5 separate regions of the Homo sapiens genome follow, and regions 1, 2, 3 and 4 are each linked to region 5. The links come from fine-mapping of genetic effects on gene expression. A gene starts in region 5. Each other region holds a variant in brackets. All regions are shown on one strand. Distances are between the middles of the regions. Region 1 overlaps LOC101927040 (a long non-coding RNA gene). Region 2 overlaps LOC101927040 (a long non-coding RNA gene). Region 3 overlaps LOC101927040 (a long non-coding RNA gene). Region 4 has its middle 25 kb from the start of STMN2. Region 5 holds the start of HEY1 (hes related family bHLH transcription factor with YRPW motif 1).

Region 1 (6,198 bases), 53 kb after region 5:
AATGCCAAAGTAGCAGGCAATGAATCCCTCAGCTTATGTGCCTGGAAAACGGTTTCCAGTCCCTGGTATTTGAGATCAGCTCAAGGCCTGGGGCAGGCCAGCATCGCCCCAGGGCTCCTCTCTGAAAAGGAGGGGTGTTCTGGAACTTAGAGCTTCCTGAGCTCTTTACTCCTACTCCAATCCCCAGAGACAGGCTCGGTGTTTTTCCTCTGCTGAGATTTCTCAAGTTCCCTTTTTTACATCGCTTATCGACATGTAAACTCCACACTAGGGTGAAAAGGTAGGTGTTTAAGATAGACGGCAACAGCTGGGATCAACTGCCTCTTAAAAGGCTGTCTTGATGAAATGCATCTCTTTATATTTGGGGCATTTGTAAGCAGAATGGGAATGAAACTTGAGAAGATTATGTGATAAGCAGACCATATCCTGTCAAGAGCGGGAGTGTTTCTCTAATAACACAAAGATGAGCTTCTAGATAGCCCACCAGATAGCCAGCCGTCTTCCGCCCAGCGTCTCCCATCATAAATCTTCATTCTTACTCAGGTTTTCTGTAGATTTTTAAGGCTAGAGCTCATTTCCCTGGAGAGACAGGCCTAAGGAAAGATCTGGAATTCCTCCAGTTAAAAAAAAAAACACCATTCTGCTTAATCAACATTTACTCCATCAGAATCAATATCCTGCAGAGGGTGGTTTACATTGTTCTCAAGTCTGTTTGCAGGTGGCTGAGCAAAGATACAGTTCCTGACCTGGATTTTCTGAAAAGGAAAAGAAAATATTCCTCAGAATAGAAAAAAAAAAAAAAAAAACCCAACCGAACTCCACTTTTTACACATAAGCTTCCTTTTGTGAGATATTCTGCCTAGGGTTGCACTCCTAACAAATTTCAGTAAGCTGATCTAGTTCAAGAACATCTTTTTTCCTAGAATTACCTGTTATTTTTCACTAAAAGGGCTCAATCATTTACCAAGCATTTGTTAAGTTATTGGTCCTCTTGGAATCTTAATTTCTCTATCCCTGATAATAGTACCTGACTTGTAGTTTCTAAATGAAATCGTATGTGTAAAATTACCTAGCCTGTGTTGGACATTCAAGAATAAGTTTCTCACTTTTCTTGATTTATCCATTGAGTGGATAAGAGGAGAATGGGTTTTGGAACTTGAACTAGGTTCAACTTCTTGCTCCTTTACTTTTCACAGGCTGCCTCTAAGGCAAAACCCTTAGCCTAGTATGTTCCCTGAACTCCAGTCTCCTCATCTGTAAAAGTAGGATAGTAATAGTTTTCTTCATTTCAGAGAGGGCTAAAGAGAACCAAATGAACAAATATAAACTTTGTAGGAGGCATTTGAAATTGTAAAGCACATAAAACTTGTTAGTTATAATCATTAACACTCTTCACAATGGAATAAAATGCACCAAATACTATTATACTTAACCACAAATATACTTAAGAAATCAAATACCATTATACTTAACCACAAATATACTTAAGAAATTAAAAATCAATTGTTTCTTAATTTATAGAAACCAATTATGATGCATCTTGTTCTAGTTTTGCTAGATTCCTTAAGATTTTGACTCTTTTGGAGGAAGGCTTTTGTAGAGGGGCTGCACCACATGAAATGTTCAAAACACATACTCTTTGAGCTACAAGGAAGAACCCCAGAAAATAAAGGTCTCTTGAAGTCAAATATATGGATACTCAAATAATTTAAGAAACTCCGAGTAGACTATTTGTGTTCATGGTGCTCATCTTTCCCTGTTTGAGCTCCCCTTGCTTCCTGAGCAGGATCACGCGCCCTGGGACCCAGTGTAGGTGGAACAGCTGGGGATCCTCCCAGCCTCCCGATGTCACAGCTTATCAGTGTTGACGGACAGAGCACACAAGGCCTTTCCTGCCTTGCTGACCAAACAAAAGACACACTTCTCTGTTTCCACCATGCTCTTTTCTTCTTGAAAAGGAAAGAGAAACTTTGTTTATGACACTGAAATATATAGGAAGCAATCGATGCATTAATGTCACTGGGCAAATTCCATCACTGGATGTCAGTGTGACCTAATTCCATTACCTACCTAGTTCTTGGGAACTCCAAAGTCCAAGGCAGGCAACTGTTGATCATCTGCAGAAGAAACGCCATAGATCTTATGAAAATCATAGACACTCAAGACCCTCGTTTTTGTTTATTTTAACTGGAAGGGTAGGAAGCTGGAACCATCTGTGAATTAGAGAATGTACATATTAGATAAAGCAACTACACATGCTACAAATGGAACACACGCATACACACACACACACACCACAATCCATCGGTTGTAAATTTGAAAGTAATAAGTTAATCTTATGTAAATTTTGGTTTGGGGTTGACCATTTCACAGATTTCCAAATATATATATGTGACAAGGTTTTAGTGGAATCTCGTTTTTCTTAGTTTACATCTCAAAAGTAAAGCTAAGCATAACCCTGAAGAAGTCTGAATTCACTTCCATATAATTAATAGATAAAAATCAGTGAATTCATTTGTTGTTTCTTCCATAAATATTCAGTGAGTGCTTACTGTGTACCAGGCACTGGGCTTGGTACTGAATTTACATTGATGAATAAAACCAATACGGTTCCTACCCTCTATGTTGGCTTTCTGTATTAAACAGTGTGTGCAGCTTCATTCCCTGTGGTCTAAGGAAGGAGAGAATGGCACGAGAAAACTGTCTCCACAGTCATGGTAACCTCTAACCTGAGCCAATGGGTAGGAAACAGTCGCCTTTGTCAGTTGGCAAGGCAAACCTGAGGCCATCAGGGCATTCTGGCATAGCCACGAATAGCACACGCTCTGGAGTCAATCTGTCTGGGTTGAATCCGGACTTCTCCACTCTCTAGCTGTGTGCTCTTGGGCAAAATACTTGATCTCCCTGTGAATCTGAAAAACAGTAGTAATATTTATATACACCTCATAAGGCTGTTGCCATGATTAACTAAGTGAAAACACATAAATCCATTAGAACAGTGCCTGGAAAATAGCAGGTGTTCAATAAATGTTAGCAATTGTTATTCTTATCTGACCTTATCTCCCATCATAGCTCTGCACACAGCCTGGAGTCCAAGCAGGGTTACTTCCCTTCTTGGCCTCTGCCACAATTTCCCCTGCCTACTTCTCCTCTCTACCCCGACACCCATGCTTTCACACATGGTGTGAGAGCCTGGACAGCTTTACCATTTCTTTTCTTCCTAGCAAACTTTTCTTGTATTCTTAAAGGCTCAGCTCAGGCTGGGTGCAGTGGCTAACGCCTGTAATCCCAACACTTTAGGAAGCCGAGGTGGGTGGATCATTTGAGGTCAGGAGTTCAAGACCAGGCTGGCCAACATGGTGAACCCTGTCTCTACCAAAAATACAAAAATTAGCTGGGCGGTAGTGGCGCATGACTGTAATCCCAATTATTCAGGAGGCTGAGGAGGCAGAGGTTGGGGTGAGCCGAGATGGCACCACTATACCCCAGTCTGGGCAACAGAGTGAGAATCTGTCTCAAAAAAAAAAAAAAAAAAAAGAGTTTAAAGGCTCAGCTCAAGCTCCCTTCCTCTAGGAAAATCTCCTTGTCCCTGACTGCCAACAGCCAGGTGTCCCTCCACTCTGCTCTTCCAAAAGCTGTGCACAGCTCTAACCCTCGATTGCACACTGGACTCTAAGGGCTTACTTGTGTGTTTCCTCTCACCGGATGGGGGCTGCTATAAGGCCATAGGAGGGGCTCCATCAATGTTTGTTGAATGAATGGATGAATGAGTCAGTGGAAGGAAGGAAAGAAGGGAGGGAGTGTCCCTGGAACAATCTAATTGGGATACTGAATTGTAATGTGTGGAGCAGGCAGTGAAGAACTCTGAGCCCAGTGATTATTTCCTCTTCCCAAGGCTACCGCTCTCTGCTATTGGCCTAAAGACATAAGGGCAGACAGAGATTCAGCTAGAAACATGGAGCAGTTAACTTATTTATGACTTTA[C/A]AACCCATGAGATCTGACCACACCAGAGGCCTGCAAGCACCCTTAAGATAGTATCGGCAGGCCAGGCACAGTGGCTTACATCTGTAATCTCAACACTTAGGGAGGCTGAGGCTGCAGTGAGCTATGACTGTGCCACTACACTCCAGTCTAGGCAATAAAGTAAGACCCTGTCTCAAGAAAAAAAAAAAAAAAGATAGCATACGTACCAAACCTCTCTTTAAGCATGTGAATACCTGCATTTCTCAAGAGGTATGTTTATCCATAGTTTTAAGAATATCGAGTCTAGAAAGTCCATAGCGTCCCTTGGTAGTATTTGCTTCAGGATACTACTCAGCAGAAATGACCTTTCTTAAGCTGCAAATCAAGTCCATGATTACTGTCCTCAGAATTGGTTCATTCTTTCAATCTCTGGTTCACCAAAAGCATTACATTTTGATGAACTATTTGCATTTCCAGCCAAAAAAATGAATGTTAACTTCCCAATACCAAAGACCCCAGGCACATTAACGTTTACCAAACACACATGCACTGAGGGGGCTGGGGTAGGAGGGGGATGTTATGTTTGGATATCTTTTGGATCACAGTGCTGAAAAAAATCACAGACAGACTCATTCATTGAGATCTCTGAAAGGGGTAGGTGTAATGTTCATCGGGTAAAACTTTGAACTAGTAAGAGCTTTTAATTTCCCCAATCTGAATAGGAACAATTAAACATTAGAAAAACAAACTATAGTTTTTCAAGTTTCAAAAACAATATCTCCATATCCTTGTCTTATTTTCGCTCTCATCTTTCTTAGTCTTCTGCATAAGACCTACTTTGGGTGTATATTGAGCAATCCCCATATCTCCATGTCTGGTTGCCAGGGTGAGCCACTTCCATTTTAAGAAATAAGGCTTTCTGATAGCTGTCCTCAAAATAGGTTCATATTTTTATGCACTAATTTATTAATTATTTATCAGCCTAAGACAAATATTCCATGCACAAAGGGGATAAAATAGGGAGCAAAATCTGCCCTCTGCCCTGGGAAAGTTTTGGCTAGTTTGTGAGACTACTTGAGGGGGATGATTTGCATGTGTGTACCTAACTTTAACTGACAAGTGTATTTTGAAAATATTCCACAAGAATTGAATATTTTATAAAATTTAATTTTTTACCAAATGACATAGTCATATCCCCTGACATACTATCTGGATACAATAGGCACTTGGTCAAACTTCATTCCTTTTTTTTTCTACCTTTGAAAATCAAATTGTGTTTAAGATGCATTTAGGGTCTTGATATTTCTGGTAAAGCATCAAATCCCACTGCACTGAGGAGCTGACTAATGGAGAATTTAAGAGCATAGTCTTTGGAGGTAGACTGATCTGGCTTTCAGTGCTGGTTCTCTCTGGCACTTGGTAGAAAAGTAATCCTCAGGAAGGAGCTTAAGCTCTCTAAACCTTAAGTTCCTCATCTGAAAAATGGGGGAAATAGTACCCATTTCACTGTGTTGTCAGAAGAATTGCTCGAGATAAAGTATATAAATCTCTGCTCATGTGGGTCCTGCATCAGTGGTAGCTACGCTACTTTTTTTCTTTTCTTTTCCTTTTTTTTTTTGAGACAAGGTCTCACTCTGTCATCTAGACTAGAGTGCAGTGGCACGATCAGAGCTCACTGCAGCTTCAGCCTCCTTAGGCTCAAGTGATCCTCCCATCTTAGCCTCCTGAGTAGCTGGGACTATAGGTGCACACCACCATGCCTGGCTAATTTTTGTTTTGTTTTGTTTTTTGTAGAGACAGGGTTTTACCATGTTGCCCAGGCTGGTCTTGAACTCCTGGCCTCAAGCAATCAGCCACCTCCATCTCCCATGGTGCTGGGATTACAGGTGTGAGCCACCGTGCCCAGCCAGTAGCTACTATTTATTTAATTTTTTTTTTTTTTTTTTTGTGTGTGTGTGTGTGATAGTGTCTCGATCTGTCACCCAGGCTGGAGTGCAGTGACGCAATCTCAGCTCACTGCAAGCTCCGCCTCCCGGATTCACGCCATTATCCTGCCTCAGCCTCCCGAGTAGCTGGGACTACAGGCGCCCGCCACCACGCCCGGCTAATTTTTTTTGTATTTTTAGTAGCGTCGGGGTTTCACCGTGTTAGCCAGGATGGTCTTGATCTCCTGACCTCGTGATCTGCCCACCTTGGCCTCCCAAAGTGCTGGGATTACAGGTGTAAGCCACCACG
Region 2 (6,198 bases), 60 kb after region 5:
ACATCAACTCCAGAAAGGGAAACTATGGGATTCTGTTATCTTTGTTATTGTTTAAGATGTATTATGACAACCACCTTTCCCCCAAGAACCTTCCCTACCTGGCAGAAAGGGGTTTGTACCCACAGGCCAGTGTACATTCTTCCCAATGTGATGGATGCAAATCTTGCTCTATATCTACCTACCTTTCTTACCCAAGAGGTTTATCAAGCCTGAACCCTGTAAACTCTTTAAGGTTCTCATTTATGCTCTTTCTTTTCATTAATACGTCCTCCCAGAGCACCACTTTGGGACTACAAATTCTGGGACAGAGGTATTAACAGAATAGATCCATCCAAGGGAGAGCCATACGCTAGCCGCAGCATAGCCATGTCAAGCAGCGACCCTGTGGGCATACCCTGCCTGCTCGTGTGTGTCCTCTCCCAGTTACTGTTTACGTTGAGTTACATGAGTCAAGCAGCCAGGCTCCATGTGGCAAAGTATACAGTAGACAGCGCATTGTATTTTGCAGAGCCTGTGATTGAGGGAAACCAATGCTCCCTCTTAAAATTACCTTTGCAAAATATTTAATATAAAACAGTACTTCTTAAGTCTGGAGGAGTCTTGGAAACTTGAAAATCAGCAGATCTGTCCAACAGAATACACAGGGCTCTCTTCCTGGGGCTGGAGGAAATATACACAATTTTTACATATAAATTTTTCATCCCATTTCAGAGGACTCAGACTCCCTGCAGGTTTTTTTTTTTTTTTTTTTTTTTGAGACCAAGTTTCACTCTTGTTGCCCAGGCTGGAGTGCAGTGGTGCGATCTTGGCTCACTGCAACCTCCACCTCCTGGGTTCAAGCGATTCTCCTGCCTCAGCCTTCCAGAGTAGCTGGGATTACAGGCATGTGCCACCATGCCCGGGTACTTTTGTATTTTTAGTAGAGATAGGGTTTCTCCATGTTGGTCAGGCTGGTCTCGAACTCCTGACCTCAGATGATCCGCCTGCCTCGTCCTCCTGAAGTGCTGGGATTACAGGGATGAGCCACCGCGCCCGGCCCTCCCTGCAGTTTTTCCACACACTCTTTTGGGTATCCACCTAATCTAGGGGAATCTAAAACAGCACCTAAATTCTCATCTCATCCAGATTCTAGTGGTCTCTTTTTTTCAGTCATGAGAAATCCAATGAAGTGGTGAGCTCCTAAGAATTCAAACATTGAGTCAGATCCCACAGTGTGAACTCTGTCTCTGCTCTGGGTGTCTCTGTCTGTTACGGGGGGGTGATCATTCATCCTACCAGGAATATCCTGGCAGGTTTCCTCAGGCCCAGGCATTGTACAAAACTCCAGAAGCTGCTCAGTCTGAGAAGCGGAGCGCTATGCAGAAAGCCCCCGGCATCGTCACAACATGGGACCTTTAGTGGGCAGTTGTTTGAGGTCATTTTCTCATCAGTAGCAGCAGGCTCAAAATGGATGTGCAATGCAAACCAGGAGACTAGGGAGCACCGAGCAGCCTCAGGGGTTGTTTTCTGCCTGGTTCAAGAGAAACTGCCGTAGAAATTTTTGCCGCCAGCCTGTTGTTGAGTGACAGGAAGAGAAAAAAGGATCATTTGAAGGCTCCCTGATTCAAATGGCGTATACAGAATGCCAGGCCCTGGCTGCCCTGGAGAAAGCCACTCTGGTGCCAGCTTAGGGAACAAATGTGTTCCCACTGTCTCCTGGAAAGGCTTTCCCCACCCCTGCTGAGGGGGTGGATTTCAAAGCAGCTGACTTCTTGCCCTTTTTAATAGGACTGCAAGTGTTCCCATTTTAATTCTAAAACTTTCTCCCAATTTTCCACTCCTCCAAGGCCTCCCAAGAAAAGCTGGTATTCTGGGTCACTGAAATGGCGTCAGGTTATTAAGCAGAGAAAGGGGATTAGAGGAACAGTTCCTAGCAGCAGCAGCGAACACAGTTACGGTATTGAGAGCTTGCGTTGCATGTTAATAAAATGCTATAAAACATCAAACCCTAAAGGTAGCAGTGAAAGCCACGTAAGTCCTTTCCGGAGTTTGCCTTCTGCAGCTGTGGATCTAAAAGTTCCCTGCCTTTCCTGTACTTTCATAATCACGCTTTTCCTCCTTTAGAGAGACACGCAGCCTCACTCCCAAACCATGGTGTGTTTTAAATGCTGACCACCCCATCTTTCCCTGGCACCATGGAGCGTTTCAGTCTAAAACCCTAGGGTCTGCGAATTCTGGCCAGTGCGCTGGGGAGAGGTAGTAGAGTAATTAAGTTAGCTGTTAGCTGCTGTGAGCGGACTTCGGTATTTCATCGCAGCTGCCTGCCTCTGTCTCCCCAGCCGCCCTCCCACATCTTCCTATGAGACCGGCTGTGTGTGTGAAGGAGGTGCTGTTTCCCACAGCTCTGATCTAATTCAGCTGAAATTCAATCTCCGTGTGACCAACCTCAGCCAGCGCTCTCCCACCCACCGCCGGCCTCCCCTCTGCAGGCTGTGTGTGCTGCCCATTTACACCATCAATCCCACAGCCTCCCCTCCACCAGCCCCTGGGTATAGACTTACGGTGTCAGCGGGCCAGCCTTGGGGGCTCGCCTGCTGCCCGGACGCTCACCCCT[C/T]ATCCCCAGTACTCCGAGGTGAGACACTCTATACCTGCCACTCGGTGGCCTGAATGGGGCCTGTGAGTCATCGCAGGAGAAAGGGCAGTGGGGCCAGCTGAGGCTGAGAACCCAAAACAGATGTCAGAGACATCAGGCCACGTTTTCCATGGATCTTCAGTGCCCAGAAAGATTTATGACCTCTTTTAACCCCCTTTTAACGTGGGTTGAACTGGGCTTGTCTTATAGGGGGGAAACAAGTCTGGCAGTCATTCAGAAAGTCACCAGAGCGACAGGGCCTGCCCTGGGTCTGTGGACCCTTGCTTCCTTTCTTTGTCATCCCTCTCTTAAGCTCCATCCCTTAGCCTCTGTGTTTGGTGGGGACATTCCATCACAGACTCATCAGAGCTCTCCATCCCTTGACAGCCCAAAGCTGCTTGTGGCTTTGACCCTAAATGGTATTCAATTTGGGTTTGCATCTTCATACTGAACAAGGAAATAATAAGTATCTTTTAGAAGAGCAGAGATTGCAGAAGGCCAGCACTGGCCAGTGATGCAGGGCCCTGGCTTTTTTTTTTTTTTTTTTTTTTCTGGTCTAATTGTTGCCTAATCATGTTATCCTGGATCAGGCGCACTTTCTTTTGACTAAGAAAGCTTTGAACTTTGCTTTGCACTTCCTGCAAGAGGAGGATTTCTACCTCGGGGCAGAGAGGCACAGGAAGGCAGAGGTTTGCGGGTACCTTTTACAAGCCCTATGAAGCAAAAGGGAAGGGGTTTACAAAGGCATCATAATTAGAAATGATGTGTCAGGGCAGGCAGGCACCACCAGAATGTGACCCTGCCGGTCTCCTCCCAGGCTGCTGCAGGAACACGGGAAATTCAGCGTGGCTTCAGCACGGGCACTCAAGCCATTTTCCAATGCAAAGGATCCCAGTCTTCCAACCTTCCATTAGTTTTACTGCACAGATTGATAAGTGACAGGCAGGGTCACACCTTCATGCTTATTTTTTTTTAAGAGAATTATAATTTGCATGAAGAGATTCCTTTTTGCTAACAATCCACCCGCTCGCTTATCTTGATCTACAGATAAAAACAGGACAGTGGAGCTGGAAAGTGTTTCCCGCACCTCCCTCAGACTCCCAGACACTCAATTTGCATTCAGTCTCAGAGAGAGTTTAGAGCCTGCTGTGTCTCCTTTTTTTGGACAGTGGGTAGTTATGACCGGAATTAAAAGGAGAAAAGTCTCCAGCACTTAAAAAAATCAACCAACTTTTTTTATGAACTTCTGCTAACAGTTAGGCTGTGTCACGGAGGGAGGTGTCCTGGGAGGGAACCTCACCCCTCCCTAGAGAAGAGGAAGCTTCCCGCAGCCAACCTCAGAAATAATCGTCTCCCTGAGTCCTGAGAAAACTGCCCCAAATGTTAACACATCAATCTTAAGGAAACGAGCCTGGCTTTTACCGACTTAATTTCATATAATTATTTCAGAGTTTAAGTCTTTACAAGAAAGAGGGAGTGGAGGGAAAGGATCAGAAAATTGAAGGGGATGAACAGAAGAGGAATGAGATTCCTTTGTTTTGAAGATTCCCATTTCTCTCCCAGTGTGCAGGGCATCTTTATCTGTGCTTTCGTCTCTCAGGAGCAAATGCACAGCACACTCAACAGCATGTGGAGAAGCTTGGAAGGCGCTGATTTCGGCTCAAGTCCGTTTTTAAAGGACACTTTAATAAAGCATCCTCTTGTGTCTTGGATCTTAGAACACCAAATGTACAGTGAAATGAGGTCAGAAGACCTGTGTGCCAGTCCTGACTCCTGACCACTAAGTTATGATGTAGTTGGCACAAGTCATTAAGCTTCGGGGACTTTATTACATCTCTAAAATGGAGGTAATGAGACCTCCCCTGCCCCCCTCTGGGGGGTTATATATAGGAAAATAGGAAAACACTTTGAAAAGTTAAAAATGCTGCTATACAGTCAAAAGTTATTATTCTTACAATAATAAAGTTCATTATGAGTATTCTGTAAGTACATTTTTAAATTTAATTTTTTTACATAGAAACAGGTTCTCACTATGTTGCCCAAGCTGGTCTCAACCTCCTGAGCTCAAGCGATCCTCCTGCCTTGGCCTCCCAAATAGCTGGGATTACAGGCATGATCCATGATGCCCAGCCTGTAAGCAGTTTATTATCAGTATTCACATAAGAGCCAGCAGCATAGGATTTGTTAAGTAAGGAAAAAGCTCGGACACCATCTAGTCCAATCAGTTTTAAATGCATCCATTTAAAATGTAAATGACAAAGCCTCATCCTCCAGAAATATTGATTCCATAGGTATAGATTAGCCCAGAAATCTGGATTTTAGATCACCACCTTGGGATATTCAGAGATAGAATCCAACAACCTGACTTTGAGCAACGTTGTTTTGCAAAACGAGGACATTTCTCATTCTCCTACTCCCTGGCCATATCCTTCCTCCCACTGGGGCTGGGTGTGAGAATAGAGCACATTACTTTCACATCTCTTCATTAATATTTCAGAATCTACAATGTGAAGGACTGGGAAGAAACAAAGCAGAATCGGGGATTATGTTGATGGGTTTGGTTTCCCTTTAATGATGAGAAAAAATGCATGTCTGCTCTGAGCAGATGATAAATTGATCCAGAAAATGTTGCACAAGTGTTCTTTGCTAAGCTTCAGGGTCAAAGTCAACAATATAAAAGAAAATATACCTCCGTTTAGTTGAAAAGGACTTACGTTCAAGGCATTGCACAACAGGTCTGGTGTGGGTTACACTCTGTCAAATGGCCCTGTTCATTTATTCAGCTTTCCACAGATCTTTGCCAAAGAGGACAATGAGAGAAAGAGACAGATTTAGCTGTTGTGGTTGCAGTTTGTTTTTGCACCTGGTGGGTTTTTTTTTTAAATGACAATAGTTTGAGAATATCACGACAACATTTTTAAAGATAATGAAATCATTTGTATGTGAAGTTGGGATAATGAAATGACAAGCCTCTCATAAAAGGAATCTCCTTTTAGTAACCATTGCCTATACTTGCATTAAGTGAAAAAAAAAAAAAAAATGAACCGAGGAAGAACTTTCTAGAAAGATAGATAGCTCCTAGAAATCTGGGAGCTTTTCATCATTATTAAACTCATTTGTCTTGCAACTTTCTATTCCTAAAATGAGCAAAAAATTTAACAAAAGCAGTCTCTGGAAAACCAAAACAGAGAACTCATAACATATTCCATTTACTCATAGGAAACTCTCAGGTACCTCCTCAAACCTCTCTACACACAGTTCTAATGCACATCTGCATGCACACACGTGTAAGTGTGTGTCTATATTGGTCTTCTATGCTCACAGTAAACACTGAACATCAGAAAATTAGGGTAGAAGAATTTCTGGAAATAGGTGCATTGATAACCAGAGTGATTGGTCAATGGACTGATGAAAAGCAGGGAGACGAGAGTATATTTAAAAGTTTTCAAAATAACTTCAGAATCTGAAAATTTGGGACCCTTTATGTGCCCTATTGCATTGCAGCAGAGTAACAAAATCTTGTTCACTGTCATGATCCCAAGGCATCAAGAAAAAAATTAAATTTCATCCATTTTCTCTGTTTAAGA
Region 3 (6,198 bases), 71 kb after region 5:
CCTGTAATCCCAGCACTTTGGGAGGCCGAGGCGGGCGGATCACCTGAGGTCAGGAGTTCGAGACCAGCCTGGCCAACATGGCAAAACCCCATCTCTACTAAAAAAAAAAAAAAAAATTAGCTGGGTGTGGTGGTGTGCACCTGTAATCCCGGCTACTCAGGAGGTTGAGGCATGAGAATTGCTTGAACCCAGGATGCGGAGGTTGCAGTGAGCCAAGATGGCACCACTGCACTCCAGCCTGGGTGACAGAGCAAGACTTCATCTCAAAAAAAAATAAATGAATAAATAAAAATAAATGAAAAGCTAGTTCTTTGAAATGATCAATTAAATTGAAGAACCTTTCATGAAACTAAACAGGGAAAAGAGATGACAAAAATTACCAATGTCAAGAATGAAAGTATGAGCAGACTCTACAGACATTAAAAGATAATCATGGAATATTATGAACAATATTATGCCTATAAATTTCACAGCTTCAGTGAAATAGACAAAGTCCTTGAAAGACACAAACTATCACAGCTCACTGAAGAAGAAATAGTTAATGTAAAACATTCTATATCTATTAAAGAAATGGAATTAATATTTACAAATTTTCCCCAAAGTAAAACCCCAGGTCGAGATGGCTCCATTAGTAATTCTACCAAATATCTAAGAAAGAAATTATAACCGTTGTATACAAACAATGAACTTTTTAGAAAATAAAAAAGGAGATAACATTTACAACTATTTTATGAGTCCAGAATTACCCTGACACTGAAATAAGACAGATATCACACACACAAAGTGTTACAGATTAATATTCTCATGAGCATAGACACAAATACCTGTAACAAAATATTAGCAAATGGAATCCAGCAATGTATAAAGAGGATAATGCATCATGACCAAGTGGGATTTTTCTTAGGAATGCAAGGTTGTTTTGACATTTGAAAATCAGTCAATATAATTTACTATATTAACAAATCAAAAAAGAAAAATGACAATCATCCCTTGACAAAATTCCACACTTATTCCTGATTAAAAAAAGAAAATCGCAAGAAACTAAGAATAGAAAGGACATTCCTCAACCTGATGAAAGATGTCTACAAAAAAATCTAGAGCTAACGATATATTTAATGGCGAAAGACTGAATGTGTTTCTCCTAAGGTTTAGAACAATGGAAGGATGTCTTTTTTCACCACTTCTAGTCAATATTGTACTGTAGGTTTTAGCCAATGCAATAAGACAAAAGCAAAAAAAATGAGAGCCATGCAGACTGTAAAGGAAGAAGTAAAACTTGTTATTTGCACATGACATGATTGTGTTGTCTAGATTCCCAAGGACTCTACAAAAATGTTATAAAATAAATAATAAAAGAGCTGATAACTGAGTATAGTAAGATAATATATTAAAATCAATTGCATATTTTTATACACTAGCAAAAAAAATTGGCATAATCCTTGAAATAATAAATTGATAAGGCTGGACACAGGGGCTTATGCCTGTAGTCCCAACACTAGGAGTCCAAGGCAGGAGGATCATTTGAGAATTTGAGACCAGCCCAGAAAACATAATGAGACCCCATCTGGATGACTAGATGATTGATAGATAGATAGATAGATAGATAGATAGATAGATAGATAGATAGATAAAGCTGGACTTCATTAAAATTAAAAGCCTCTTCTCTGAAAGGTACTGTCAAGAAAATGAGAAGACAAGCCACAGACTAGGAGAAAATATTTATGAAACACTAATAAAACACTGTTATCTAAAACATACAAAGAACTCTTAAAATTCAATGATTTTAAAAACCTGATTTAAAATAGACAAAATACCTGGACACCTCACCAAAGAAGATATAAACAGGTGGCAAATAAGCATATGAAAAAAATGCACAACATCCTATATCATTAGGAAATTACAAATTAAAACAACAGGATACCATCACACACTTATTAGAATGGCCAAAATCCAAAACATTGACGACATCAAATGCTGGTGAGGACGTGGAGCAACAGGAACTCTCATTCACTGTTGGTAGGAATACAAAATGGTACAGCTAATTTAAAAGATAGTTTGGCAGTTTCTTACAAAACTTACAAAATCTTACCATATGATTTTGGCAATTGTGCTTCCAAATGAGTTGAAAACCTATGTCTAAGCCAAAACTTACATATGAATGTTTATAACAGATTTATTTATAATTGCCCAAACTTGAAAGTAACCAAGATGTTCTTCAGTAGGTAAGTGGGTGGACTGTGGTATATTCTGACCATGAAGTATTATGAAATACTAAAAAGAAATGAGCTATTAAACCATGAAAAGATATGGAGGAAACTTAAATGCATGTTACCAAGTGAAAGCCAGTCAAAAATGCTACAAGTTGTATGATTCTGACTATAAGATATTCTGGAAAAAGCAAAACTATGGAGACAGTAAAACAATCAGTGGTTGCCAGGAATTAGGGAGGAGGGAAGGATGAATGGGCAGGACACAGAGGATCTTTAGGGCAGTGAAACTGTTTTGTATAATTCCATAGTGGTGAATACATATCATTATACATGTGTCAAAACCCACAGAATGTACAACACCAAGAGTGAATCCTAATAAACTATGGATTTTGTGTGGTGGTAATGTGTCACTGTAGGCTCATTGATTTTATCATTACCATTCTGGTGTGGGAATTTGAAAGTAGTGTGGCCGTGTGTATGTGGGAGCAGGGGATGTATAAGAAATCTCTGTACGTTCTGCTTAATTTTGCTGTCAATGTAAAACTGTGCTAAAACATAATGTCTATTAAAAAATCACAAAGTGAAAATGTTTTCTTACCATTTATAATTGTGTAAAAATGAAATATTTAGGGATAAATATAATAAGTGCAATATCTGTATTCCGAAAACTATAAAACATGCCCAAGAGAAAGTAAAGGCCTGGTACACCATGGCTCACGCCTGTAAGTCCAGCACTTTGGGAGGCTGAGGCAG[G/A]CAGACCACTTGAAGTTGGGAGTTCGAGACCAGCCTGACCAACATGATGAAACCCCATCTCTACTAAAAATACAAAATTTAGCCAGGTATGGTGGCACATGCCTGTACTCCCAGCTACTCGTGGGGCTGAGGCAGGAGAATCGCTTGAACCTGGGAGGCGGAGGTTGCAGTGAGCTGAGATTGTGCCACTGCACTCCAGCCTGGGTGACAGAGTGAGATTCCATCTCAAAAAAAAAAAAAAAAAAGAGAAAGTAAAGAGCTAAATTAATCAAGGTATATCCCCTGTTTATTAACTGAATGATCAGTATTATTAAAGCATCAATTCTCCCCTAATGATCTACAGGTTCAGATCAGTTACTCCAGGTAAAATATTGGCAGGTTTTTGGTAAAAACTGACAAATAGATTCTAAATTTATATGGAAATGGAAAGGTCCTAGGATGGCCAAAACAATATTTAAAAAGAAGAGCAAAGTTAGCGGACTTATACTACTTGATTTCAAGACTTATCATAAATCTACAGTAATCAAGACAGTATGGTGCTGGTGTAAGAACAGATATATAGATGCTTGGAAAAGAAAGAAAACCCAGAAACAGACTTACACATGTATGGGTAATTAATTATTGACAAAGTATAAGAATAATTCAATGGGAATAAAAGTAGACTTTTCAACAAATGGTGCAAAAACAACTGTATATACATATGAGAAAGAATGAACCTCAATCCAAAATTCCTGCCATACACAAAAAATTAACTAGAAATCAATCATAATCATAGATCAAAATATAAAGTCTAAAACTATAAAATGTCTAGGAGAAAACCTTCATAACCTTGGGATAGGCAAAGATTTCTGAGGACACAAAAAGCACCATAAAAAATGATACAATTTTCTTCACTAAGATTCAAAATGTTTGCTCTTCAAAAGACACCAACAAGAAAATGAATTGACAGGCCAAAGACCAGAAGGAAATATTTGCAATGCATGTATCTAACAAAGGACTGCTATTCAGAACATATAAACACAACTTAATAATAAACAGGCAAAAAATGGGCAAAAGATTTGTACAGAAACTTCACAAAAGAAAATAAACAAATGGCCAATGAGTATATAAAAAGATGCTCAATATTCTTAGTCATCAGACAATGGAAATTAAAACCACAATGAGAAACCACCACACACCTATTAGAATCGCTAAAAATTTTAAAGTTTTATATAACCAAGTGTTGGTGAGGATATAGAGCAACTAGAACAGTCATGCATCACTACTGGGAATGTAAAATAGCATAACCACTTTGAAAAACAGGTTGGCAATTTCTTACACAGTTAAACATACAGCTACCATACAACCCAGCAATTATACGCCTGGATATTTTCCACCCACAGTGAAATATATGTTACACAAATTATTTTACCCAAATGTTCATTTGTTAATAATAGCTAAAAACTGGAGACAAGCCAAACATCTACCTTCAGAATAATAAGCAAGTTGTGCTACATTCATGCAATAGACTGCTATTCATCAATGAGAAGAATATCTACAGATACATGTCAGAACATTGTCATCTCAAAAGCATCATATTAAGTGAACAAATTCACACAAAAACATTATATATATTATATGTATAAAATTCTAGAAAAGGCAAAACTACTTCATTGTTATAGAAAGCAGTTCAAGGGTTGCTTGGGGCTGGGGTTGGCAGGTAGGGGCACACAGGAGTCTTTTAGGGTGATGAAAGTGTTGTGTGTATTAATTATGATGGTAGTTAAACTGATGTATACAAAACATATCACACTAAGCACCTGGAATAAGTGCATTTTATTGGATACAAATTATTACTCAATAAAGTTTTTTGTAAAATTAATTTGGTAGAGCTAAAATAGAAAGTATTTATGGACAAAAATGGCTTGGAATAAGACTATACAAGGTAGCAGGAGTCAGCCTATGAGGGATTTTCATCCCACGGGCATTGTATATTTTGTTTAAAATACATTTTTAAAAATATATATTCCGAAAAATGGCTTGGGCTATTTATGAAAGACAATTTGGTAATGAGTAAGGAATCTTTTTCTGACCATAACCCAGAATAGGAATAACATTCTATGTCATGACCCAGTGCACAAATACACACGTGTATAACAGTACTAACCCTTTCCTACATGCAATGGATATGCATATAAATAGGCATAGGAATAGAAATATTTTCTGTTCTATTCTTTTTTAAATGCCGGTGTCATACTTTAAATTAATTTCATGACCCATTAATCGGTTGTGACCTTCAGCTTGTAAAACACTATGTTAAAAACCTACCTGACATGAATAAATTTTAGTTAAGCAATTCAATATTAATTTCTAGATAAGATCAAGCTTCAAAACAGAGGCGTTCTAGAAGGAAGAGACTGGGGGAAAAAATGACAGTTAAGAGGATTTGGGACATAAACATTGCTATAGACCAAAATTCAAGTGTTGAAACCTAATCACCAATGTGATGATATTTGGAGCTGGGATTTTGGGGAGATGATGAGTTCATGAGGGTGGAGCCCTCACAAATAGAATTAGTGCCCTTATAAAAGACTCCAGGGAACTCCCTCATTCTTTTGCCATGTGAGGACACAGTGAGAAGATGCCATCTATGAACCAGAAAGAGGGCTCTCACCAGACACTGAATCTGCCAGCACCTTGATCTTGAATTTTCTAACCTATAGAACTGTGAGAAATAAATTTCTGTCATTTATAAGCCACGCAGGGTATGGTAATTTCTTATAGTAGCTCAAATGCACTAAGACAAACTTGTAGGGATGGTCCTGGTTTCTTGCTTCCAGCTGTATAGAGGAAGATGACTCAGAATCAATAGGCCTTGAGAGTCAGACAGACCTAGGTTCACATTTGGTTACAGCAATGACTGTGTGATTTTAAGCAAGTAATTTGACCTCTCTGAGTCTCCATTTCCTTGTTTGTAAAATGGAGTTAGTAATAGTAAATATTTATCTCAGAGGATTGTGTGAGGATTAAGCAAGACAAAAGGTAGACACTCAGGGCCAAGATGGCTGGCTAGAACCAGCTACAGAGAGGCTCTCATGGAGAGGCTTTCATGGAGAGGAACGAAAGGGGTGAGTAAATACGGCACCTTCAATGGAAATATCCAGGTACTTGGATTGGGATTAATCAGGGAAACAGCTCAACCCATGTAGAACTGAGAAAAGCAGGGCAGGGCAATAGCTCATCTGGGAGTGACACA
Region 4 (6,198 bases), 180 kb before region 5:
TCCCTTTTACCAGGCTTGAAGGAGGCAAATATAGTAATTCCATGAATACACTGATATGGTTTGGCTCTGTATCCCCACCCAAATCCCACCTTGAATTGTAATAATCCCCATGTATCAAGGGCAGGACCAGGTGGAGGTAATTGGATCATGAGGGCAGTTTCCCCCATGCTGCTCTCATAATAAGTGAGTGAGTTCTCACAAGATATGATGGTTTTATAAGCAACTGGCATTTTTCCTGCTTGTACTCACTCCATTCTGCTGTACTGTGAAGACGGTGCCTCCTTCTCTTTTGCCTTCTGCCATGATTTTCCTGAGGCCTCCCCAGCAATGCAGAACTGTGAGTCAATTAAACCTTTTTCCTTTATAAATTACCCAGTCTCAGATATTTCTTCATAGCAGTGTGAAAACAGACTAATACAGTATATTGGTACCAGGAGTGGGACGCTCCTATAAGGATACCCAAAAATGCAGAAGCAACTTTGGAACTGGGTAACAGACAGAGGTTGGAAAAGTTTGGAGGGCTCAGAAGAAGACAAGAAAATATGGGAAAGTTGGAACTTCCTGGAAACTTGTTGAATGGTTTTGACCAAGACACTGATAGTTATATGGGCAATGAAGTCCAGGCTGAGGTAGTCTCAGATGGAGATGATGAACTTCTTGGGAACTGGAGTAAAAGTGACTCTTGCTATGCTTTAGCAAAGAGACTGGCAGCATTTTGCCCCTGCCTTAGCAATCTGTGGAACTTTGAACTTGAGAGAGATGATTTAGGGTATCTGGCAGAAGAAATTTCTAAGCAGCAAAGCATTCAAGAAGAAGAACAGAACAGAAAAGTTTGAAAAATTTTGCAACCTGACAATACAATAGAAAAGAAAAATCCATTTTTTGGGTAGAAATTCAAGCCCACTGCAGAAATTTGCATAAGTAATGAGAAACCAAATGTTAATCAACAGGACAATGGAGAAAATGTCTCCAGGGCATGTCAGAGAACATCACAGCAGCCTGGAGGCCTGGAGGGAAGGCTAGAAAAATGGAAGGAGGCCTAGGAAGAAAAAATGGTTTCCTAGGCCAGGCCCAGTTCCCACCTGCTCTGTGCAGCCTTGGAACATGGTGCCCTGCATCCTAGCTGCTTCAGCTCCAGCTCTGGCTAAATGGGGCCAATGTACAACTGGAGCCATCACTTCAGGGGGTGCAGGCCCCAAGCCTTGGGAGCTTACATGTGGTGTTGAGCCTGGATGTCCAGGCAAAAGTTTGCTGCCGGGATGAAGCCCTCATAGAGAACCTCTGCTAGGGCAGTGCAGAAGGAAAATGTGGGGTTGGAGTCCCCACACAGATTCCCCATTGGGGCATTGTCTAGTGGAGCTGTGAGAATATGGCCACCATCATCCAGATCCCAGAATGGTAGGTCCACTTACGGCTTGCATCGTGAACCTGAAAAAGCTGCAGACACTCAATGCCAGCCCATGGAAGCAGCTGGGAGGGGTCCTGGACCCTGCAAAGCCACAGGGGTGGAGCTGTCCAAGGTTGTGGGAGTCCTGAATGTGAGACATGGAATCAAAGGAGATCATTTAGGAATTTTAAGGTTTAATGAGGGCCCTATTGGATTCCAGACTTGATGGGACCTGTAGCCCCTTCATTTTGTCCAATTTATCCGATTTGGAATGGGTGTATTTACCCAATGCCTGTACTTCCATCGTATCTAGGAAGTAACTAACTTGCTTTTGATTTTACAGGCTAAAAGGCAGAAGGGACTTGTCTCAGATAAGACTTCGGACTTTGAGGTTGGGGCTAATACTGGAATGTTAAGACTTTGGGGGACTGTTGGAAGGGCATGATTGTGTTTTGAAATGTGAGGACATGAGATTTGGGAGGGACCAAAAGTGGAGTGATATGATTTGGTTCTGTGTTCCCACCCAAATCTCACCTTGAATTGTAATAATCCCCACATATCAAGGGCAGGGAGCAGGTGGAGGTAATTGAATCATGGGTGCAGTTTCCTCTATGCTGTTCTTGTGATAATAAGTGAGTCTTATGAGATCTAATGGTTTTATAAGCATCTGGCATTTCCCCTGCTTGCACTCACTTCATCCTGCTGCCCTGTGAAAAAAAGGTGCCTTCTTCTCCTTCCCCTTCCACCTGATTGTAAGTTTCCTGAGGCTTCCCTAGCAATGTGAAAATGTGAGTCAATTAAACCTCTTTCCTTTATAATTACCTAGTCTCTGGCATTTCTTCATAGCAGTGTGAGAACAGACTAATACACATACAGACCTGAGAATTCATATGAACACTCCATTCAAACTCCAAAAAAACAGCTAAAAGTCGTATTTTTTTCTTAATTAAATCTTTAAGTCCATTTGACCAAACCTAGGGGTCAGAAATGGATCAAAATGATATATGAATTGTCAAATAACCACTCCGACAAATGATCTCCTTACAGGATTTAGAAATGACATTGATTGAAAAATGGCATGCTATTTATCACATAAGGCTGTTAGCTAAGACATCTTTTTAACACAGCTTTCTAACACCTCTCTCCCCAGGGTAGCATTGCAACATACACCACTAGCCTAGGATTGAGATAGTTCTGAAGGAGAAATACGTTTGTCTGCCACTCTCCCTGAAAAGCTTCTGTGTTGAGGACACAAGTTCGTATGTCTTTGTCCCAGGAATCCGTCCTCTAGATCATTTCTTCAGCTTTTGACATCTGAGGAAAAGTTCTTGTCACTCAAACACCAAGCAGGAAAGAACCAAAACTGATGTTTAATTAACCTTCTTAGTGGAAAATTAAAACGACTCTTTTCCCAGTAATAAGAGTCTTTTTAAACCCTGAGAGAGGGAGCAGTGGAGTCAATTAAAATCAAAAACCTTAGGCAGAAGCAAGAATACCTAACCCCAGGGTTGAAAGTGTTCCATCTAATCTGGCATTGTCAATGCTGGAGGTGGTGATTCACCAAAGGGAGGAAACCTCTTCCTAAGTGGTTGAACTTTTAGGCACTAAATATAAAGAGAATTCAAAGTTTCTCTAATTTCACACAGTACCCTGGCCTTAAATGTGAAGGGCAGAATTCCTTCTTCACCAGAATTTTAAGAATTTATTATCCTTGTGCCCTGCCTTCTGCACAAGTAATTTTACCCCTCCATATTTGTATGTTGTGCTTAATCTACTCAGCTTGATTTGCTAGTCTTTTAGGTCTATCTTGAAAATAAGAATTAGGACAACGCTAATAATATCAAAGTGTAGACATAAAAGAAGCACAATCATTTTGTTTTACCTGCATAGTTTCTTCCATCTTGTTTTTGCAGAATCCATATCCATATATGTATCTTTGCAGATTCTGTGCATAAACCAATAATAACCTGTATAT[A/T]GAAAAATACATTGAAATAATCTCATTGTATATCTCTTTCTCTCATTAAGCTATAAGATCCTAATTACAGAGTCTGTGTCTTATACATGTTTGTAGCATGACATATGATAATATCTGGAAATTTTACTTCTGTTTTTAATATATTTGCATTTAAATAAGAGCTACCATGAAATATTTATAGAAAATTCAAGGATGAGTTTGGGTTGACACTATTTAAAACGAAGGCAGTTCGTGTCTGTCAAATATTAAAAACAACATCTAGCTCTGATAACCGAAATGTTTGTATGAACTTTTGAACTTGAAAAGTACATCATTTTCTAGGACAGAAGTGGCATTCTAAATCAGTGAGGGAAACGTAGGCACAGTGGCATGCACCTGTAGTCCCAGCTACTCAGGAGGCTGAGGTAGGAGGATTCCTTCAGCCCAAGAATTTAAGGCCAGCCTGGGCAACTCAGTGAAACCCCATCTCAAAACAAAACAAAACAAAAATCAGTGAGTAAAAAATGGATGCTTTAAAATGATGCTTGAGAAAAAAAAGATAAAACTAAATCTTCATTTCAAACTGAAAACAAATAGATCAAAGATCAAAAATGTAAAAATTTTTAAAACCATACAATAGAAAAATAAATGAGAATAAATTTTTTTTATAACCTGAGAGTTGGAAATATATTCCTAGTTCAAAATTTAGAAGCAATAAAAGAAGTAAAGTCTGACTACACTAAATAAGAAATTAAAAATTGGTATAAAAAAAGATTATAAACAAAGACAAAGGACAAACTAAGAAAAAATACATGCAATTTATGTCACAGACAAAGGGATATTTCTATGGTACATAGAAACATGGGTAAAAGATGTGGACAAACAGAACACAGAAGAAATGGAACACATGAGAAGATAATCAACCTAACTCACAAATTAAAATTTAATTAAGAGATCACTTCGCACCTATAAGAATTGCAAAAATCCAAAAATTAGACAATATATTATTTAATTGTCATGGAGCAACCACATGAGTTGGAAATGCAAAAGTGTAATATAAATAGAGGGGGATTTGACAATATCTAGAAAAATTACTTATACATTCTCTTTTTGACTCAGCAATTTCATTTCTAGGAATCTGCCCAAAAAAAAGTAAAACTATGAAGTGTTTTATGCACAAGATTATTCACCATAGAATAATTTTAATACTTAACTGGAAATAATTCAAATGTCCATTAATAGAGACTGGCTAAATAAATTATGGTAAACTAATACTATATAGCCATAAAAAGGAATAAAGAAGAATGCTATACACTGATATGAAATATTCTCTAGGATATACTATTAAATGAAAAAATGCAGAATAGCTTATATAATGTGCTATCTTTATATAAGAAAAAGAATTTGCATTTATTTAGCAAATTACATTTGTAAAGGGAATTTTTTTACTAACCAACAACTGGTTATAAAAAATGAGTAGCTATAAAAAGAGAAAAGAAAGAGAATACAAGGAATTGCAATTGAACCAAAAGCCCTAAAATATGAAAACAAAGCAAAAACAAGCTAATTGTTTATCAAATTAGAGATATAAACACAAAAAAATTCTTTTTTTTATTATACTTTAAGTTTTAGGGTACATGTGCACATTGTGCAGGTTAGTTACATATGTATACATGTGCCATTCTCACTCATAGGTGGGAATTGAACAATGAGATCACATGGACACAGGAAGGGGAATATCACACTCTGGGGACTGTGGTGGGGTGGGGGGAGGGGGGAGGGATAGCACTGGGAGATATACCTAATGATAGATGACGAGTTAGTGGGTGCAGTGCACCAGCATGGCACAAAAAAATTCTTTACATAGTATTTCTATTTTTTATATTTAGTGGAATATAATATATTTCATAGAGTTTGCAAGAAATCTTAACAGCAGCCTAATCATTAATCATAACATTGTTAATTTTATTTTGATATTCTATACATATTAGAATAATGCAAATATATAATTAAATTTAATGTTAAGTAAAATTTGATTTCACCTAAAATTTAATCATTCCATTAATAATTTAATATTTGATTTCACCTAAATTTAATATTGTATTAAAATTAATATTTTAATATCATTACATAAATTAATATTACAAGTAAAACTTAATATTATTAAGCAATAAAATATCCATGTAAGAGAAAAGCAATAAAAGTATATAATCAAAAAGTTGAATTAATCATATCACCAGACCAGCATTATCCTAATACCAAAGCCAGAGAAAGACAGAAAAGAAAATTACAGACCAATATTCCTGATGATAAGCATAAATGCAAACATACTCAACAAAATACTAGCAAACCAAATTCAACAGCCCATAAAAGGATTATACACTCTGACCAAGTGGGACTTATTTCTGGGATGCAAGGATGGTACATGGTACAATGCATGCAAATCAATATATGTGATACACTATATTAATAGGATGAAGGACAAAAATCATATGATTATCTCAACAGACGCAGGAAAAGCATTTGACAAAACTCAACAGCCTTTCATGATGCAAACTGTCAACAAATTAGATATAGAAGGAGTGTTCCTGCATATATTAAAGCTACATATGACAAGCTCATAGCTATCATCAGAATCAGTGGCACAAAGTGGGAAGGTTTTCCTCTAATATCAGGAACAAGACAAGAATACTCACTCTCACCACTTCTATTTAACATAGTAGTGGAAGTCTTAGCCAGAATAAGGAAGCAAGAAAAAGATAAAATGCATCCAAATTGAAAGGAAATAAATAAAATTGTCTCTGTTTGGAAATGACATTATTTTATATATAGAAAATCCTAAAGACTTCACTGAAAA
Region 5 (6,198 bases):
AAGTAAACCAACAAACCTTTAGTCTTTAAAAAAAAAATTATCTGAAAGTGTACCTTTTTCCTTTTTACTTTTACTGACGACTTTAAGGTGATGTTGGCAACAGTCCAGCCCAGCTGGGATTTTAAACTTTCCCCTCCCTCATTCTACATCAGTTCTTTAAAAAGCTCCGATCTCCGTCCCCCAAGGTCTATAGGGCTTGCCAAGGTTTGCAGCCTGCGTGGGTGCTGAAGGGCTCAGTGCATTGGGAGACAGTAAGTGGAAGGAGCCGAAAGAGAAGGGGAAGGCCGACAGGGAGGCCACTGAGGAGAGCAGAGGCGGCGACAGTTTGGAGGCGGAGGTGACCACAGGGAGCACCGGTCCGAGGCTGCCGCTAGGGGGCGCTCGCAAAGCAGGCGCCTCCGGATGTGCCGAGCCCAGCCTGCCCTGGTGGTGCGGTTCCGTGGGTGAGGCCGTGGTGCCCGCGTTCCCGTGGCCGTTCTGGGGCAGCAACAGCGGGTGCGCGATGTGCGGGTGATGTCCGAAGACGGTCCCCCAGGGAATGTGTCCGAGGCCCGCGTGGGCGCCGCTCGCGGCTTCCCGCTGGGAAGCGTAGTTGTTGAGATGCGAAACCAGTCGAACTCGAAGCGGGTCAGAGGCATCTAGTCCTTCAATGATGCTCAGATAACGCGCAACTTCTGCCAGGCATTCCCGAAATCCCAAACTCCGATAGTCCATAGCAAGGGCGTGCGCGTCAAAGTAACCTAAGCAAAAGAACAAAAGAAAAATCTCAGGGCTTTGCCCGTTTCCCTCATTTCTTAAGTCCCAGAGACAGCCCTTCCTGGCAGATACCTGCATCCCTTAAAACACAACAGTCAGGGGTTCTTCCGAAAGTCTTTGGAATCAACAAAAATCTTTGCATTAATCAACATAAGCAGAATGTGTTTGCTAATGCAAGTTCAAAGCCCAATTAGAAGCTGCAGAGCAGAAATTGGAATTATACCCTACCAGCAGATGAAACTATGTTCATTCCTTTAATGTTTTCCCTCAACAACAACAAAAAATACATCAAGGGCAGAGAAACCACAGAGCAGTGAAATTCATTAGACACACAGATGTAAGTTATCATCGCGGAGCTTTTAGGCACTTGGACCTCAGTAAAGCATTTTCCTGCTGGAGAGACATACACACAGACCTTGGTCTCCCGTTAGGTTTCCTTTACTTAACCAGAATACATTTCTTTCCTCAAGAGGCATGTGGCAGCACCTTTTTTTTAAAATCCCGTATACCAAAAATAAGACCACATATTGTTTTTAAATGCTTTTTCTCAAAATAGCAATGGACAAATGTGAAAGCTACCTGATCTGAATCAGGGCTGTCACAACTTTTGAAGACCTCACAAATAATAGGTATTTTTCCAAAAGATGCACTAGCTCAATCCGCAGAGAGCTGGGGTGGTGAATTCACTGGAGAAGATTCTATGTGCATTCGAAAATGTACTGACAGGGAACTGCACACACCACACACCGTTCTCTCCCCACCCCCAAAGAAAAATCAGGCAGCTACTGCACCAATCCTGGCCTTCAGCCGCTGCTCACTCTTTGCCAACCATTCAGAGCCCCCACTAGGTCTAGGAGATGTACCTTTCCCTCCTGCCGTATGCAGCATTTTCAGGTGATCCACGGTCATCTGCAGGATCTCGGCTTTTTCTAGCTTAGCAGATCCCTAAAGATGAGAATGGCAAAAGATTGATTTGGCACAAGTTCCTTTGGGGAACAATTTAAAATATGCAAACATATATACAAAGATACATGCTTTGTAAATCGTAAAGCATGGACTAAAGCAAAATCAGTTGTCTTCACAAAATACGCTGGTATCTGTGTACGAATTCATCTAGGCACAAGCAACACAGCTATTTTCCAAGGCGGATGAGATTAATGAGGGGAAGATTCAGAAGGTGCAGATAGCTATGCTGAGAGCTTTACCTACTTGCTCCATTACCTGCTTCTCAAAAGCACTGGGTACCAGCCTTCTCAGCTCAGACAAACTGTTATTGATCCGGTCTCGTCGGCGCTTCTCAATTATCTGCAGAAGGCAAGCAAAACAAAGGAAGGCATTACCATTACGACTGTAAATTTCAAAGACAAAAAAAAAGGTGGTTATTTCCGTTAATCAATAACAAAAATAAAAGGAGAGTGTAAAGAGACTCACTCCTCTCCGTCTTTTTCTGGCCAAAATCTGGGAAGATGTAGTTGGGGACATGGAACCTAGAGCCGAACTCAAGTTTCTGAAAAGAGAAAAAGAACAAACAAAAACTGAAATCGCCGTTAAACGAGGAGAGGTGATCTGAGAGGTCGCCCCCACACCCTCCCCGCACTCAGACTTTTTTTGCCACTTGGGCTGGAAGGCACCTAGGGGTTCCCTGGCCGCAGGCTGCCGCCAGCCTGCGACGCGCGGAGGTCAGCGCAGGGCACCGGCGCGCCAAGGGTCCTAGCCCGCTGTCACCGCGGCAGGCCTGCGCTCGCCTCCCGCTCTGGCTCGGCTCCGCTCCGCCGCCGCCAGCTCACCCATTCTCGTCCGCACTCTCCTTCTCCACCTCGATGGTCTCGTCCAGCTCGCTGTCCGAGGAGCTGTACTCGGGGTGAGCTCGCTTCATGCTGGCTCCCTGGGGGTTCCTGGGGAGGGTCGGCGCGGCGGGCAGGGAGGAGTTAACTACAGCGGCGCCTCTCCGCTCTCGGCTGCTTGCGTTCCGCACACACTGATCCCGCTCACGCTTTGCCTCTGGTTAAAACTCAACCATCCTTTCCCACGCTGAGCCCCTTCCCAGGGCCCTGGGGAGGGCGGGGGAGTGGGGAAGGCGGGCGAGGGGGCGGAGAGGCGGGGCGGCAACTCCAGGGCAACAGCCGCCCCCCGGCCAATCCGGTTTCTCGCGCCGCTGATTGGCAGCCGCTCCGGGGAGGGGCGGGAGCGAGGCCGAGGGCTCTAGCGGACCGCGCCCCCGCCCTCCGCGCCCGCCCCTGCCCGGCGGCGGTGCGTCGGCTCCGCGGGGGCTCTGTCCAGCCTGCACTCAGGGGAAGGAGGAGGCGCGGGCGGCGGGGAGGCGCGGGAGGCCGGGCCGGGACACAAGCCCGCCGGCGGCCGCGGCTCCTCCCCGCCCCGCGCGCCCCGATTGGCCTGGCCGCGCGCCAGGGCCGAGCCTGCAGCGCCTCCGGTGAGCCGCACGCGCCGCGGGCCGTGGGAAAGTGCCGGCGCCGCGGCCGCCAGCCAATCCGGGCGGCCGGCGACGGCGACGGCGGCGGCCGCGCTGGCGGCGGCGGCGGCGGCGCTGGGCGTCCGCATGAATGGAGAAGAATGGGCAGGCGGGGAGCCGGGCCGCGCGAGGGCGCGCCGGCGGGGGCTGGGCGGCCGCCGGCCGGGCCCCCAGTGTGAACCTGTAATCGGAGCCTGGGCGCCGGCCGGCCTCGGAAGCCGCCGCCTAGCGCCACCGTAAATCTCGCCCGCGTGGCCGCCAGTGCCCGGCGGCTGGAGGCGCGCGCTGTTAGTGGGGCCGTGCCGGGTGCACCTGGCCGGGCTGCGCGCCGGCGGCTCCGCGGAACCCGCAGGGAGCCGGGAGAGGGGGCGCCGGGCGCGTCCACAGTGGCCACCAGCCCAGGGGCCGGTCACATGGAGGAGCAAGCTGTGGGCTCAGGGGACGCTCTTTTTGATTTCTGGGACCGAGGCCGCACATGCAGCCAGACTCGTTTCCGCAGGGGCTTCCCAGCCGCGGAATGGAATGAATACCCCTGTGCATCTCATTTCCGGGGAAGGGGAGCACTTGTTTTTTCGGCCGCCTTGGGGAAAAAAAAACCCAACGGTCCCTGGGAATAATCATTATGCTGGGATTTTTTTGTTGTTCCCCCGCTGCCCCCCCCCCCGCCCCCTCCCCCCGGCGGCCAGATCCTCTCAGCGGGCGACAGGGTGGCGGTGCTGGCGTTTGCGTCTGAGGCCGGCCTTGCTGAGGGAATGCACGTCTCTGGCCCCAGACACACACCTCTGGCTTCGGTGGCTTGGCGTGGCGTGTACTGGGTGCCACGTGAAGTCCCCCCCGAGTCCACTAAGAAGACAGATTTTTTAAAAAATACAGTTGTAAATCTCGAAACTGATTTCTGATTCCAGAAACAGAATGGTTGTTTTAAATTTGAAAATCCGGTCTTCTGTCCCTTACAAAGGTACACAGCAATTCGCATTCATCTCAGATCCACTCTGAAGCTTGTAGTCCTGTCTGTGAGGGAAAGCTTAATATCCATCGGTGAGAATAACAAAAGGCGTTTTCTCTTTGCAAAAAGCTTCCTGGTTTCTAGACTTCCTTATTGATCTCAATGCTATTTTTTTTTTGAGATGGTGTCTCACTCTGTCGCCCAGGCTGGAGTGCAGTGGCGCGATCTCGGCTCACTGCAACCTCCGCCTCCCGGGTTGAAGCAATTCTCCTGCCTCGGCCTCCCCAGAAGCTGGGATTACAGACGCGCGCCACCATGCTCAGCTAATTGTTTTTGGTATTTTTAGTAGAAACGAGGTTTCACCATGTTGGCCAGGCTTGTCTCAAACTCCTGACCAAAGGTGATCCGCCTGCCTTGGCCTCCCAAAGTACTGGGATTACAGGCCTAAGCCACCGCGCTCGGCCTCAATGCCATCTTAACACATCCTGGATGCCAAGCACTCTGAGTGGCCGGCCTGGGCCTAATCCATAGTTCCTCTCTGGGCACCCCCATCCCTCCACCACCGCCCCCAACGGGAAATACAACCTCCTGGCTCCCACTGAAGCTTATTCCACTTCACATCACCTCCAGCCCTGAGCCTTTCCATGCAGCCCCTCTGCTTCCCTGTCTAGGCTGGGCCCTTCCATCAGCCAGCCTGGGTTTGTTGCTGCTGGCACCCCAGACCTCTGGCTTCCTGAAACTCCACCGCATGCTGCCTGTTAGTTGTCAGTCCGAGGTCAATCCCACCAGCCGACTTTCTCTCTGGAAGTGCAAATTTTAAGGCTCCTTCCTGGCCCTCCCAGTCTTCAGTCCAGGGCATCCATCACTACTTCCTGCCTCTTCCCTCCCAGAAACTGATGGTCCAGGCATAGGAAACCATCCCACCTGCTCCCCTCTGCCTTCCAGAAGTCCCTCTGACCTTCCATTTCTTTCCCCAAAGTGACAGGCCACCCTTCCCCAGAACCAACGTGTCTACTTCCCCTCTGGCTCTATAGATTTTCCCAGCCTCTGGCACCTACAATGAGTCAGCCTTTCCTGCTTTGGCTCATTTCTGCTGCTGTGGAGAGGCGTGGACAAGCTGCAGATGTTGAGTGAGACGAGACCGGGTGGGGTTAGGGATGCTTAACTCTACATTGGCATCCAAATGAAATATTGCTCACATGTTCATGATTACTTTTATGTCAAAAAGGAGGTTCTCTACGGCCAGGCGCAGTGGCTCACACCTGTAATCCTAACACTTTGAGAGGCTGAGGCAGGAGGATTGCTTGAGTCCAGGAGCTCCAGATCAGCCTGGGCAACATAGCAAGATCCCCATTTCTTAAAAAAGAAAATTAAAAATTAGCCAGGCATGGCATGCACCTGTAGTCCTAGCTTCGTAGAAAGCTGAGGTGGGAGGTTTGCGTGAGGCCAGGAGTGCCAGACCAGACTGGGCAACACGGCAAGATCCCCATCTCTAGAAAAAATTTAAAAATGAACCGGGCATGGTGGCCTGTGTCCTAGCTACTCTGGGGGCCGAGGCTTGAGCCCAGGAGGTCAACGCTACAATGAGCTATGATCATTGCACAGCACTCCAGCCTGGGTAACAGAATGAGACTCTGTCTCTAAAAAAATTACAAATGAGGTTGTCTTGCTTCTTAAGTTTGACTGATTTTTCAATGCTTCCAATAAATACGTATTCTTCTATGTGCCATGTGCTGTGCTAGGGCCTGAAAACACAAAGGTGACCCAAAAGTCATCCATCTTGCACTCCTAGAACTCACATCCTAGGGAGAAGACAGAGAATACACAGTAAAGTAGTTATGGATGCTCCAGTGCTTGGAAGCACTTGTTGGTAAGGAAAAACGAGGGGGTGAGGATTCTTTATGAGGTCTGGGAAGGCCTGTTCTGAGTTTGGAAGGGACTTAAGATCAAGAAGAGGTGAACTAGGTGGTTCAGTAATAACCGGGAAGGAAGGGGCGGAGACCTCTTCCTTGAGTGGTGGGATCAG

Evidence for each region. PIP is the estimated chance that this variant, and not a neighbour inherited with it, causes the effect.
Region 1: its variant is the best candidate, but not a certain one, in a credible set for the expression of HEY1 in whole blood (INTERVAL, PIP 0.66).
Region 2: its variant is the best candidate, but not a certain one, in a credible set for the expression of HEY1 in whole blood (GTEx, PIP 0.65).
Region 3: its variant is the best candidate, but not a certain one, in a credible set for the expression of HEY1 in whole blood (TOPMed, PIP 0.86).
Region 4: its variant is the best candidate, but not a certain one, in a credible set for the expression of HEY1 in whole blood (INTERVAL, PIP 0.66).

Annotation. Positions count from the first base shown.
Region 1 is chr8:79,818,399-79,824,596 of GRCh38, forward strand. LOC101927040 (a long non-coding RNA gene) reads right to left here. Exons shown (of 6, transcript NR_110954.1): 3 at 2,071-2,117. Among named protein-coding and RNA genes, the nearest start is that of LINC01607, 53 kb to the left of the region's middle. The variant C/A (reference allele first, on the strand shown) is at 3,985.
Region 2 is chr8:79,825,176-79,831,373 of GRCh38, forward strand. All of the region lies in intron 2 of LOC101927040 (a long non-coding RNA gene), which reads right to left. Among named protein-coding and RNA genes, the nearest start is that of LINC01607, 60 kb to the left of the region's middle. The variant C/T (reference allele first, on the strand shown) is at 2,594.
Region 3 is chr8:79,835,933-79,842,130 of GRCh38, forward strand. All of the region lies in intron 2 of LOC101927040 (a long non-coding RNA gene), which reads right to left. Among named protein-coding and RNA genes, the nearest start is that of LINC01607, 71 kb to the left of the region's middle. The variant G/A (reference allele first, on the strand shown) is at 2,964.
Region 4 is chr8:79,582,656-79,588,853 of GRCh38, forward strand. No RefSeq gene overlaps it. Among named protein-coding and RNA genes, the nearest start is that of STMN2, 25 kb to the right of the region's middle. The variant A/T (reference allele first, on the strand shown) is at 3,363.
Region 5 is chr8:79,765,032-79,771,229 of GRCh38, forward strand. HEY1 (hes related family bHLH transcription factor with YRPW motif 1) reads right to left here and starts at 2,736. Exons shown (of 5, transcript NM_012258.4): 1 at 2,544-2,736; 2 at 2,188-2,263; 3 at 1,978-2,061; 4 at 1,620-1,701; 5 at 1-740. The coding sequence starts at 2,632. The coding sequence ends at 157. It overlaps LINC01607 (long intergenic non-protein coding RNA 1607), which reads left to right and starts at 3,111. Exons shown (of 4, transcript NR_125410.1): 1 at 3,111-3,187. It overlaps LOC101927040 (a long non-coding RNA gene), which reads right to left. Exons shown (of 6, transcript NR_110954.1): 6 at 4,341-5,974. RefSeq lists enhancers at 433-672, 2,259-2,308 and silencers at 2,759-3,238, 3,279-3,638, 3,739-3,908.